Linked DNA regions of Homo sapiens. The protein of the gene in region 3 purifies or fractionates together with the protein of the main gene of each other region. This does not show direct contact. Each region holds a gene or a part of one and is shown on either strand. Other genes may lie near its edges.

The links.
Region 1: the proteins of SAP30BP (region 3) and OCRL purify together in Homo sapiens (co-immunoprecipitation; one large-scale study listed by IntAct). This does not show direct contact.
Region 2: the proteins of SAP30BP (region 3) and OGA purify together in Homo sapiens (affinity purification with mass spectrometry; one large-scale study listed by BioGRID and IntAct). This does not show direct contact.

What each region holds. Positions count from the first base shown.
Region 1 is NC_000023.11:129,571,115-129,574,766, forward strand, and holds part of OCRL (inositol polyphosphate 5-phosphatase OCRL), read left to right. Parts: intron 1-3,652. UniProt on the Homo sapiens protein: Catalyzes the hydrolysis of the 5-position phosphate of phosphatidylinositol 4,5-bisphosphate (PtdIns(4,5)P2) and phosphatidylinositol-3,4,5-bisphosphate (PtdIns(3,4,5)P3), with the greatest catalytic activity towards PtdIns(4,5)P2.
Region 2 is NC_000010.11:101,804,823-101,808,474, forward strand, and holds part of OGA (protein O-GlcNAcase), read right to left. Parts: intron 3,080-3,652; coding exon 2,908-3,079; intron 1,322-2,907; coding exon 1,223-1,321; intron 1-1,222.
Region 3 is NC_000017.11:75,705,211-75,708,584, reverse strand, and holds the end of SAP30BP (SAP30-binding protein), read right to left. Parts: intron 2,975-3,374; coding exon of another isoform or gene 2,894-2,974; intron 2,578-2,893; coding exon 2,493-2,577; intron 2,246-2,492; coding exon 2,064-2,245; 3' UTR 526-2,063; downstream 1-525. UniProt on the Homo sapiens protein: Plays a role in transcriptional repression by promoting histone deacetylase activity, leading to deacetylation of histone H3.

The DNA.
Region 1 (3,652 bases), on a different chromosome or scaffold from region 3:
TACCTCTATAATTCTATAGAACTTGATGAAATATACCTTTAGATAACTTCTTTTAGCCCATCTAATTTCTAGTTTGTACTTGCAGGCTGCCCCTTTTTCTTCATTTGAATTCTCTTAATCCATTTTGAGAGGGTATCTTTCCTCAAACACTAACCTCTTTGGTTAGATCAGGTATGCCTGGCTTTTTTGTTTACATTTCTTTTCAAAACCTTCAGATTTTTTTGTTTGTTTTTGTTTTTTGTTTTTTGGTTTTTTTTTTTTTTTTTTTGAGACAGAGTCTCGCTCTGTCACCCAGGTTGGAGTGCAGTGGCACGATCTTGGCTCACTGCAAGCTCCGCCTCCTGGGTTCACGCCATTCTCTTGCCTCAGCCTCCCGCCCAGCTAATTTTTTGTATTTTTAGTAGAGACGGGGTTTCACCATGTTAGCCAGGATGATCTCGATCTCCTGACCTTGTGGTCCACCCGCCTCAGCCTCCCAAAGTGCTGAGATTACAGGCATGAGCCACCGCTCGCAGCCAACCTTGGGATGTTTTTAATACTCCATACACATTAATGCAGAGCTTCTAGTGGGATATTTACATTTTTTTTCAGGCTTCCTGTGTATTTATGTATATCTTTAATAAAGATATGCCTTTTGAGTTTTTAATGATTTTTAAATTATACAGCAATGACAAGTGCTTTTAAAAAAATTAAAAGGAAATTTAAGCAGAATTGACAGATAAGGCAGAAGTTCTTCAATCCCTGTTCTGTCTCCTACTCCCAACTTTGCCTAAACCCCCATTCCCCAGCCAGGCCACTACCCTTAGGAGTTTATATCTTTCTAGACCAGTGCTGTCCAATAGAGCTTTCTGTGATGATGGAAATGTCCTGTATCTGTGCTGTCCAGTCCAGTGGCTTCTAGCAGCAGGGGGCTATTGAGTACTTGAAGTGTGGCTAGTGCAACTGAGAACTGAACTTCTAATTTAATTTAATTTAAAGTAATTTAAATTCAAATTCCCTATGTGGCTAGTCACTATTGTACTGGACAGTGCAGTTCTAGACCTTTGTATATGCTTTTTTGTTCACTCATAGACAAAATACTGATTTGTGTGTGTCTCTATATCATAAACGGTCTTATATGTATGTGTTGGTCTGCAACTTGATTTTTTTTTTTAACTCAGCAGTGTGTCTTGGAGAACCTCCCATCTTATTACATAAAGACCTAGCTCATTGTACTTTTTTTCAAATTCCTAATTTTGTCAGTAATTTCCTTTACTAAAATGGATGTGTCAGGTTGTGAAATTCTTTGGGGTTCCCCCCCTCCTCATTATCTTTGATTTGCCATTAAGTGCTGTGATCATGATAACCCGCTGAGAAAAAGTTTGATTTTATTGAGTAATCACCCCATGTTTTGGATTCTTGGGCATGCTATGATTAGAGGCTTTAAAAACCACACTATATTTTCACCACCATTGGCACCAATGACTGTTAACAAAGGAGCCAAGTGCACCGTGGCCAATTAATTTCAGAAGACTTTCTGTGGGCTGGCTGAGATAGAGCTAGGATAGGGTTCCAACCCTGCACTTGGTACTGTGATCTGTTGCATTGGTTCTCAGACTTCAGTGGATGTAAGAATTGCTTAGAGAGCTTTAAAAAAAGTGTGGATGCATGTGTCCTCACCCCTAGAGGCTGTGATTAGTAGACCCAGGCAGCTGTGCTTTTAAGACATACTCAAGTTGATTCTGTCACATATCTAGTATATTGGAAAGAGTCTTAAACTAGTCCAGATGTCACCTTTGGTATTCACTGTAGCAGTGAGCAAGTTTGTTGATTGTTTTGTATCTTAATGTTCTCAACTATCGGAACAAAAATATTCCTTGCTTTGGTAGCCTTCCAGGTTGTGAAAATAAAAAGACATGTGCAAAATACTTTTGGAAATTAAAAGTTGCAAAGTTTTGTAAAAGTATAAAATTCATCTTAAACTAATGCTATACTATGGACCCTGGTGATGGTAAAGTGATTGTTTGATCCTCGGTTCTCTAAGAGTTACAGTTCAAATATGTGAAAAACTTCCCCAGTCTGAGATACTTGACTCAGCTTTGATGTTCTTATTTTCAACATTTTAAAAAATTTTTATTTCACTTCAAGTTGTGGGATACAAGTGCAGAACGTATAGGCTTGTTACATAGGTATGTGTGCCATGTTGGTTTGCTGCACCTATCAACCCATCATCTAGGTTTTAAGCCCCACGTGCATTAGCTATTTAACCTTAATGCTCTCCTTCCCCTCGCCCCACTACCCCGAGTGGCCTGGTGTGTGTTGTTCCCCTCCCTGTGTCCATGTGTTCTCATTCTTCAACTCCCACCTATAAGTGAGAATATGCGGTGCTTGGTTTTCTGTTCCTGTGTTAGTTTGCTAAGGATGATGGCTTCCAGCTTCATCCATGTCCCTGCAAAGGACATGACTTTTTTTATTTTTTGAGGTGGAGTCTTGCTCTGTTGCCCAGGCTGGAGTGCAGTGGTGCAATCTTGGCTCACTTCAACCTCCGCCTCCCGGGCTCAAGGGATTCTCCTGCCTCAGCCTCCCAAGTGACTGGGATTACAGGCACCCACCACCATGCCTGGCTAATTTTTTTTTTGTACTTTTAGTAGAGACAGAGTTTCACCGTGTTGGCTGGGGTGGTTTCGAACTCCTGACCTCTAGTGATCCTCCTGCCTCGGCCTCCCGCAGTGCTAGGATTACAGGTGTGAGCCACTGTGCCCAGCCTGATCTCATTCCTTTTTATGGCTGTATAGTATTCCATGGTGTATATTTACCACATTTTCTTTATCAAGTCTTATTATTAATGGGCATTTGGGTTGGTTCCATGTCTTTGCTATTGTAAGTAGTGCTGCAGTAAACATATGTGTGCATGTGTCTTTATAGTAGAATGATTTATATTCTTTTGGGTATATACCCAGTAATGGGATTGCTGGGTCAAATGGTATTTCTGGTTCTAGATCCTTGAGGAATCGCCACACTGTCTTGCACAATGGTTGAACTAATTTACACTCCTACCAACAGTGTAAAAGCGTTCCTACTTCTCCACAGCCTCACCAGCATCTGTTTCCACATCTTTTTAGAACCTTTGCTGCATGTATCAATTTTTTTTGACATGAATTTTTGTGAAATTTCCTAGTCTAAAAAAGAAACCGATATCTCAAGTTAAAATCTGTTAGTTATGTTAATTTTGGCATTGGTTTGTATGAAGTTTTAATATTTAAAAAAACACAGCTATATCAGGAAGCTGAAAGTGCTGTGTCAGGTGGAAAATTTTTTTATCAGTGGAGATGTGTTTATACGTTGTCATGGTTTTACTCTAGTCTAGGACATTTTGTTTCAGCCATTTTCTAAAATGGCTGTAGGTTCCATTTATTAATATATCTCTGCTATTATGTAATCTGAGCAGTGATATTATACTTCTTGGTATTGTACATAGAATCTAATAGAGTTAAAAGCTTTTTAATAATATTTGCTGCCACCTCACCAAGTTATGATTGTTAGAAACAGTAATTGCTGTGTTTTGACACTGTCATTTTGTACAGTGCAAGCAATCATTTTTACCACAATTATCACATTTTTTCCACTACCAAATAACTTAACAATGAAGCAAGAAAATATTCTTCCCAAATAT
Region 2 (3,652 bases), on a different chromosome or scaffold from region 3:
TCAAGCGATCCTCCTACCTCAACTCAAGCCTCCCACAGCACTGGGATTACAGGCACGAACCAATGCACCCAGCCACAATTTTTCTTTTGAAAACACAACATGTCTTTTACTGAGCTTTATTTTTTTCGTTTTATAAAATAGAAGAGTTTCCTAACGCTGCTTAAGGATGGGATCAATACCTTTTAGCCCAATTCCCTATAAATCTTTATTATTTATTAACTGAATTTTTTTTGAGACAGGGTCTCATTCTGTTGCTCAGGCTGGAGTGCAGTGGCATGATCACAGCTCACTGCAGCCTCTACCTCCCGGGCTCAAGTGATCCTTCCACCTCAGCCCCCTAAGTAGCTGGGACTACAGGTGTGCACCAGCCCACCTGGCTAAGTTTTTTATTTTTTCTACAGTCTCTCTATGTTGTCTAAGCTGGTCTTGAACTCCTGGGGGCTTCCACCTCAGGCTCCCCACTCAGGCTCCCCAACCATGATAGATGTTTTTTCATATTAAGAGAATATGTAAACTTTGTAAAAGAAAGCGTATTTTAACAAGTTCTCTGGGCCAGGTGCAGTGGGTCACATGTGTAATCCCAGCACTTTGGGAGGCCGAAGTGGGCAGATCACCTGAGGTCGGGAGTTTGAGACCAGCCTGGCTAACATGGAGAAACCCCGTCTCTACTAGAAATACAAAAATTAGCTGGGTGTGGTGGCGTGTGCCTGTAATCCCAGCTACTTGGGAGGCTGAGTCAGGAGAATTGCTTGAACCCGGGAGGCAGAGTTTGCAGGGAGCTGAGATTGTGCCACTGCACTCCAGCCTGGGCAACAAGAGCAATGCTCTGTCTCAAAAAAAAAAAAAAAAAAGGCCAGGCGTGGTGGCTCACGCCTGTAATCCCAGCACTTTGGGAGGCCAAGGCGGGTGGATCACGAGGTCAGGAGATCGAGACCATCCTGGCTAACATGGTGAAACCCTGTCTCTACTAAAAATACAAAAAATTAGCCAGGCGTGGTGGCGGGTGCCTGTAGTCCCAGCTACTCGGGAGGCTGAGGCAGGAGAATGGTGTGAACCTGGGAGGCGGAGCGTGCAGTGAGCCGAGATCATGCCACTGGACTCCATCCTGGGCGACAGAGTGAGACTCCGTCTCAAAAAAAAAAGTATTCAATTAACAAGAACAAGCAATTTCTGCAAGTCCTACTTAATTCAACTTTGACTGTATAAATCTTAAAAGACTTACCTGTCCAAAGCACTTCAATTCCAGGTAGAAGCTTTTCACCCACAGTCCTTAAATATGGAGACTGAGACACATTTGGATAACAGAAAGTGCCACAGTATTCTAAATGTAGGGAGAAAAGTAAAAAAGTCAGAATTAAAATGCTCATGGGTTTTCTCTTTGTTTGTTTGTTTTCTTTGAGACGGAGTCTCACTCTTGATGCCCAGGCTAGAGTGCAGTGGCACGATCTCGGCTCACTGCAACCTCTGCCTCCTGGGCTCAAGCAATTCTCCTGCCTCAGCCTCCCAAGCAGCTGGGACTACAGGCGCACGCCGCCACGCCCGGCTAATTTTTTTTTGTATTTTAGTAGAGATGGGGTTTCACCATGCTGCCCAGGTTGGTCGCAAACTCCTGAGCTCAGGCAATCCGCCCGCCTTGGCCTCCCAAAAGGCCCATGGGTTTTTGAATGTGGAAAAAATGTCTGCCAATTCTAAATTATTTTCATCTAAATGATAAAAGGCCTCCTACAAGGAACTAAAGTGGGCAGTTCATTTAAGAAATTCATAAAATCTGGTATTTTTCCTCCAACAGTAGTACAGATCAATTCTTACGATACTACAGTTACTAGAAATACAAGTTTACTAAAAAAACAAGAACTGCAGCATTTTCTACAGAATTCTGAATTGCCTACTTTTCTCAGTTACAATTAAACGCCAAACAGAATGAATTGATAATATCATAATAGAACTAATACAAGAATATGCCAATGGCAGCTGGGCACAGTGGCTCACACCTGCAATCCCAGCATTTTGGGAGGCTGAAGCGGGTGGATCACTTGAGCCCAAGAGTTCGACACTAGCCTGGGCAATATGGCGAAACCCCGTCTCTACCAAAAATATAAAAATTAGCCAGTTTTATAGCCCGGTCTCTAAATAAATAATACAAACTTAAAAGTAAAATTTAAAAAAAATTTTTTTAAAGGCATATACCAATGGCTATTAGTACTCAACTGCAACTTAAACTGTAACTTGCAGCTAATTAATTCCCAGTATAATCTTAAAACTTCTGGGTACTAATGTAGTACTCAACTAAAATAAGGTTCTCGGCTCACAATACACACAAAGAAAGTTAAATAATTTAATCTAAAATTCTTCCTGAACAAGGAAGTGTGGGGAAAACTTCCTGTAAGTTGAATTTTGAGAAGCAACTAAGAGACTAAAATATTTTCAATGAAAGAAACCAGAGGGGCAAAAAGAAAGGAAAACGGGAAAAACTGTTAAGCTTTCTATGCTGACTACTTGAAATAAGAGCCCAGATGGGAGTGGGAGGAGTGCAAAAAGGGACAGATATGCATGGGCAGAAAAAGGGGACAAGTAGGAGGAAATGAGAAGTGACTAAGGTAAAAGCAATGTAATTTGGTTTTTCTCCAGTTTTCATTTCAATACTATCCCTCTTTTAATATTGACAATGTAATGTTCATATACTTCCAGTACTTAAAAATACATAAAAATCTTTTGCCTAGTCAGTTGTCATTTATTAGTTCCTAAAATTTCTCCAATTTAGGATCTTGAAAAATGTCTTCTAAAAAAAGATTCCTACTTTTACACACCAAAGGAGGAGGGAAGTGGAGAGAGAATGGGGCCCATGGTCCTTTATAAGTTATATATTCCAAGAAGACTAGTTAAATGTAAAGCCATTATATACAATACCTGTGGGACAGAAGAGGAAAGTTTCTGGCTCTCCTAGGTACTGATAGATTTCATTTGTGATGGAGACTTGGGCATGAGCAAAAGAACTGAATACCTCTTTGTCTGCTGCACACATATTATGGTCTATATCATCAAAAAGCAAAGCAAATGATCTGCACCCAAACTGAGAAACCTAGGAGAAAAAAAAAAAAAAGAATCAAGAGTAAAAAAATTAAGAATTCCAAACATTACAGCGTTAACAGTTATACTTAAAATCCAGTATTTTCCTTACTAGAATGTTCAAAGACAGATTTATTGTTTTTACATTTTCAATTAAAAAATCGTAAGTTAAACAGTTTTGGGACCCATTTCTCATTTGGGTTTGAATGCACTACAGGCTGAGTATTCCTTATCTGAAATGCTTGGGACCAAAAATGTTTTGGATTTTCATTTTTGTTTTTTCCTGGATTTTGGAATATCTGTATTATATTCAGCATCCCTAACCTGAAAATCCAAAATCTGAAATGCTCCAATGAGCATTTCCTTTGAATTTTATGGAGCTCAAAGAGTTTCATATTTTGGAACATTTCAGATTTCTGAATTAGGGATACTCAACTTATATGACAATATGATCCAACAAAGTGGCCTAGCCTCCTAGTCCTCATGGGCTGCTGCTGATTGTAGAAGACCCAACAAAGTCAGAAAAATACAGAAACATGAGTAAGTAACCTTAAGACATGAAAAAGCCAGGCTGTGTCCTAGTCCC
Region 3 (3,374 bases):
GGTGTGTGGGTGGGGGACAGTAGGAGCCGTGGACAGAGTTCAGTTTGGACACTGTTCTCTGGCGAGCAGACACACACTGGTTAGAAACAACTTTGGCCCCTAGTGCCTGGGCCATCCACCCACAACAGGAACTGTTCACACACCTCTGGGCCATCCTTGATGTGACTAAGGTGGGCAAGCACCATTTTATAGAAGAGTAAATGAAAGTCTAGAAGGATTAAAAACCTTGACCCAACTCACGAGGCTGGTAAGTGGGGCAGCAGTTTTGGCCTGGGGTTGCCCAACTTCTAAGCCTATGTTCATTCTCCAGGCCCCCTACCTCTGCGGCCCCGCAGGAGACAGTCATTACTGCTTTAACTGGACAGATGAATGGCAGCGCCAGGGCTGCCCAGAGGAAAGCGGGGAGGGGAAAGACCTGCCAAACCCTACCCCGCCGACAGAGCACGAGACGGGGGACAGGCCAGGAGTTTGCTTCTCTCCTTGGTCTACAACAAAAAAAAATTGGATTTAGCCAACAAAAAACACTGGCAGGAACTTTACAGTTTATAAAGCTTTTGCATAAGTCACCTCTGGTTCTTCCCAACCATCTTACGACGCTTTATTACTGTGATTTCAGAGAAGAAACAGGCTTACAGAGGTTAAGGGCTTGAGACCACTCAACTGGTTTTAAGTGGAATCCAGACCAGAGGTGCCGGCTCCACGTCTACTGCCCTTTCCACGGTGCCATGCTGCCTCCCACAAAACATCCACAGTGCCCTTGGCCAATGAGGGGCCGCCATCGGAGGTCACAGGAAGCCTTTTCACAGTCCCTCTGGGGCATGAGTGGGGAGCAGCTCTTCTCCCCAGAGCTTTAAAGCCCCATCGAGGAAGGGGTGAGAACTGACCTCCTGAAGTGCCCGAGTGTGTGTGTACGGGGAGAGTGGACTCAATTTTTATTTTTGAAACCTCATGCACAGAGTTCCTTATATTCCCCAGGTCCCACAAGAGTACCAGGTGCCATTTCAGAACCACCTTTCTAAACCTCTGCCCACCCACTGAAAGCAACACGGCCCTTCACAGCCTGGCTTCCTTCTTTTGACACACAGCCCTTCCGCTCCAGTGGAGAATCGCCAAAGATCATGAAGGGTAAATAGTCTCCTCTGAACCCCTGGTCTGGGAAACCCGTTTCAACCCCGGGGGGAGCCCAGTGGCCACTGGTGCTGCCCAGGGGCTGCTGTGGGGCAGAGATAACACACAGAGGAAGGGTGGGGTGGCAGGAGCCCTCCCAGGAGCAGGGCTTGCCTGTAAACAATGAGCTGCCGCCTCGCCAAGGCAGGAGGTGATTCATCTCCCCCGCTGCTCAGCTCCTGCTGGCTGCGCTCACCGGGCACCAAAGGACTGGGGCAGCCCTGGCCAGGCGCTGACGCCTCCCCACTCTCTGCACAGGTCAGGATCTCACCCCAGCCCTTCTGGAAACTGGCTTGACTTCAAAAGCCTTCCTGGGTGTGTCCAAAAAGTGATCTGGTCTGGGGAGTGCTCAAGTGCACTCAAGGGAGCACAGCTCCACCATCACCCGAGAACTGGCTGGGTTTTGGGATCAAGGCGGCAGATGGGGCATACGTGGGGCTCGGGGACTCCCGCCTGTCCATGCCCAGAGGCATACACGGATAACAACGGTGACTTCTTGGGTCACCCCTCTGAACAGCGTCCCAGGCCTCCATCACCCTGTTGTCAACCCTGAGGCAATAGTCCCAACCAAGACTATTGAGTCTTGGGGGACATGTGAGCTGAAGCATTTGCCTGCAAACAGAATGCAGGAGAGGCCAGTGCATCTGAGATGCCAAGAGGTAAGAATACGGCACTTTTAATAGGCGGCAGACCCCAGGTGGTGCGTGGACAGACCCTGTCCACAGCGCCTGGCTCCCGTGCTGCCTGTCCTTCCATCTGGAATGCCAAACAGAAGCTCCTCTCAGGTGGCATCTGGGGAGTAGGTCCCAGTCCTGAAATATACAAAGTGGCGCCTCCCACTGGGCAGTGGTCACTGGGCTGCACGGTCCTTTCAAGTCCTAGGGTGGCCCCTCAGGTCACTGCTTGGCCTTCTTCACAATGGTGCCCACAGCAGAGATGACGGTGGTCTTGGAGCCGCTGGCGCTGGTGGTGACCGTGACAACAGCTGGCAGGGTGGCTGTGGTGGTGAGGATGGTGGGCTGGGCTATCGTTGTCACTGGGATAGCCGAATCCCACTTGCTCTTTCTCTTCTGAGCATCTGGAGATAAAGCAGAAATCAGGATCACGATCCACCAATGAGCGGTGCCCTCTTTCCCTTCCCCCTGCAGGCCAGCGGGAGTCTAGGGAGCAGACCCCGAAGTGGCCCACCCCAGACTCCAAAGGTGCTTCTCAAAGTAGCAAGGCTGAGCCCAGGCCCAGATCCACGTGCTGTCTGTCGCCCAAACAAGCCAGGGAGACCCTGGCTCCATGTGTGTGGCAGGAGGCAGGGCAGCTCTGCAATCTACCTGCAACAGCTGTGCTGGCAGTGGTAGTGGTGGTGGACGTGGCGTTGGTCGTGGTGCCTTTTTTGGTGCCCGTCACAAACTCAATCTGGAGAGGGAGAGGGAAGAGAATAAGACCAGGCAAAGCTGGGTGTCCACAGCTTTTTGCCATCCGTCAGCTCCTGGGGGACAGGAGCTTGGCACTACACAAAAGAGGCATTGGAAATGAACTCTGCTCTGCCCATCTGGGGTAGGGCGAGATGTCTAAGAAGAACCCAAAGGGGCTTTTCACTCTTAAAAGAACTTTCCAAACAGTACTGTATCCCTCCCGGCATCACCAGGTCTCTGCACATGCCCGGCACCCCCCGCCCACCGCCCCACCTCACATGCCCAGAACCGTTTGGCCAGGCCCCTCCTCCTCACACCCAGGAGGAGGCGGTGCCCGCCCGCACAGGGGAAGGACAGCTCCGGTCCCCAGGCGCTGCAGACACGTCCCTGCAACAAGCCTGGGGTTTGGAAGGGAGAGGGAAAGAGAGAGAAGGGAGATTCAATCAAGGGTTAAGAATGAGAAACCCCAACTATCCCCTTGCACCAGCTCCCACGTTCCTGGCCCAGCAGCCAGCACCTCCAGAGGGCCACCAGCATGCCCAGGCCCCACAGCCCCTCTGCTTGGGGTGAGGGAAGCGGTCTGGAGGCCGCAGCTGCTTGAGGATGGTCAGGCCGAGCCAGAAGTGGGAGGAGCTGGTGTCCTGATGCCCGGCTCTGAGACTGGTCACAAAGGGAACAAGGCCCAGAGATAACAGTTTGGTCTCCCAGCCAAACTGATGCTCCCTGAAGAACCCAGACCACACTGCCAGGGAACAAGTGGTGCTCAGGGCCCTAACGTGGGACCTAATAGGTAGCACC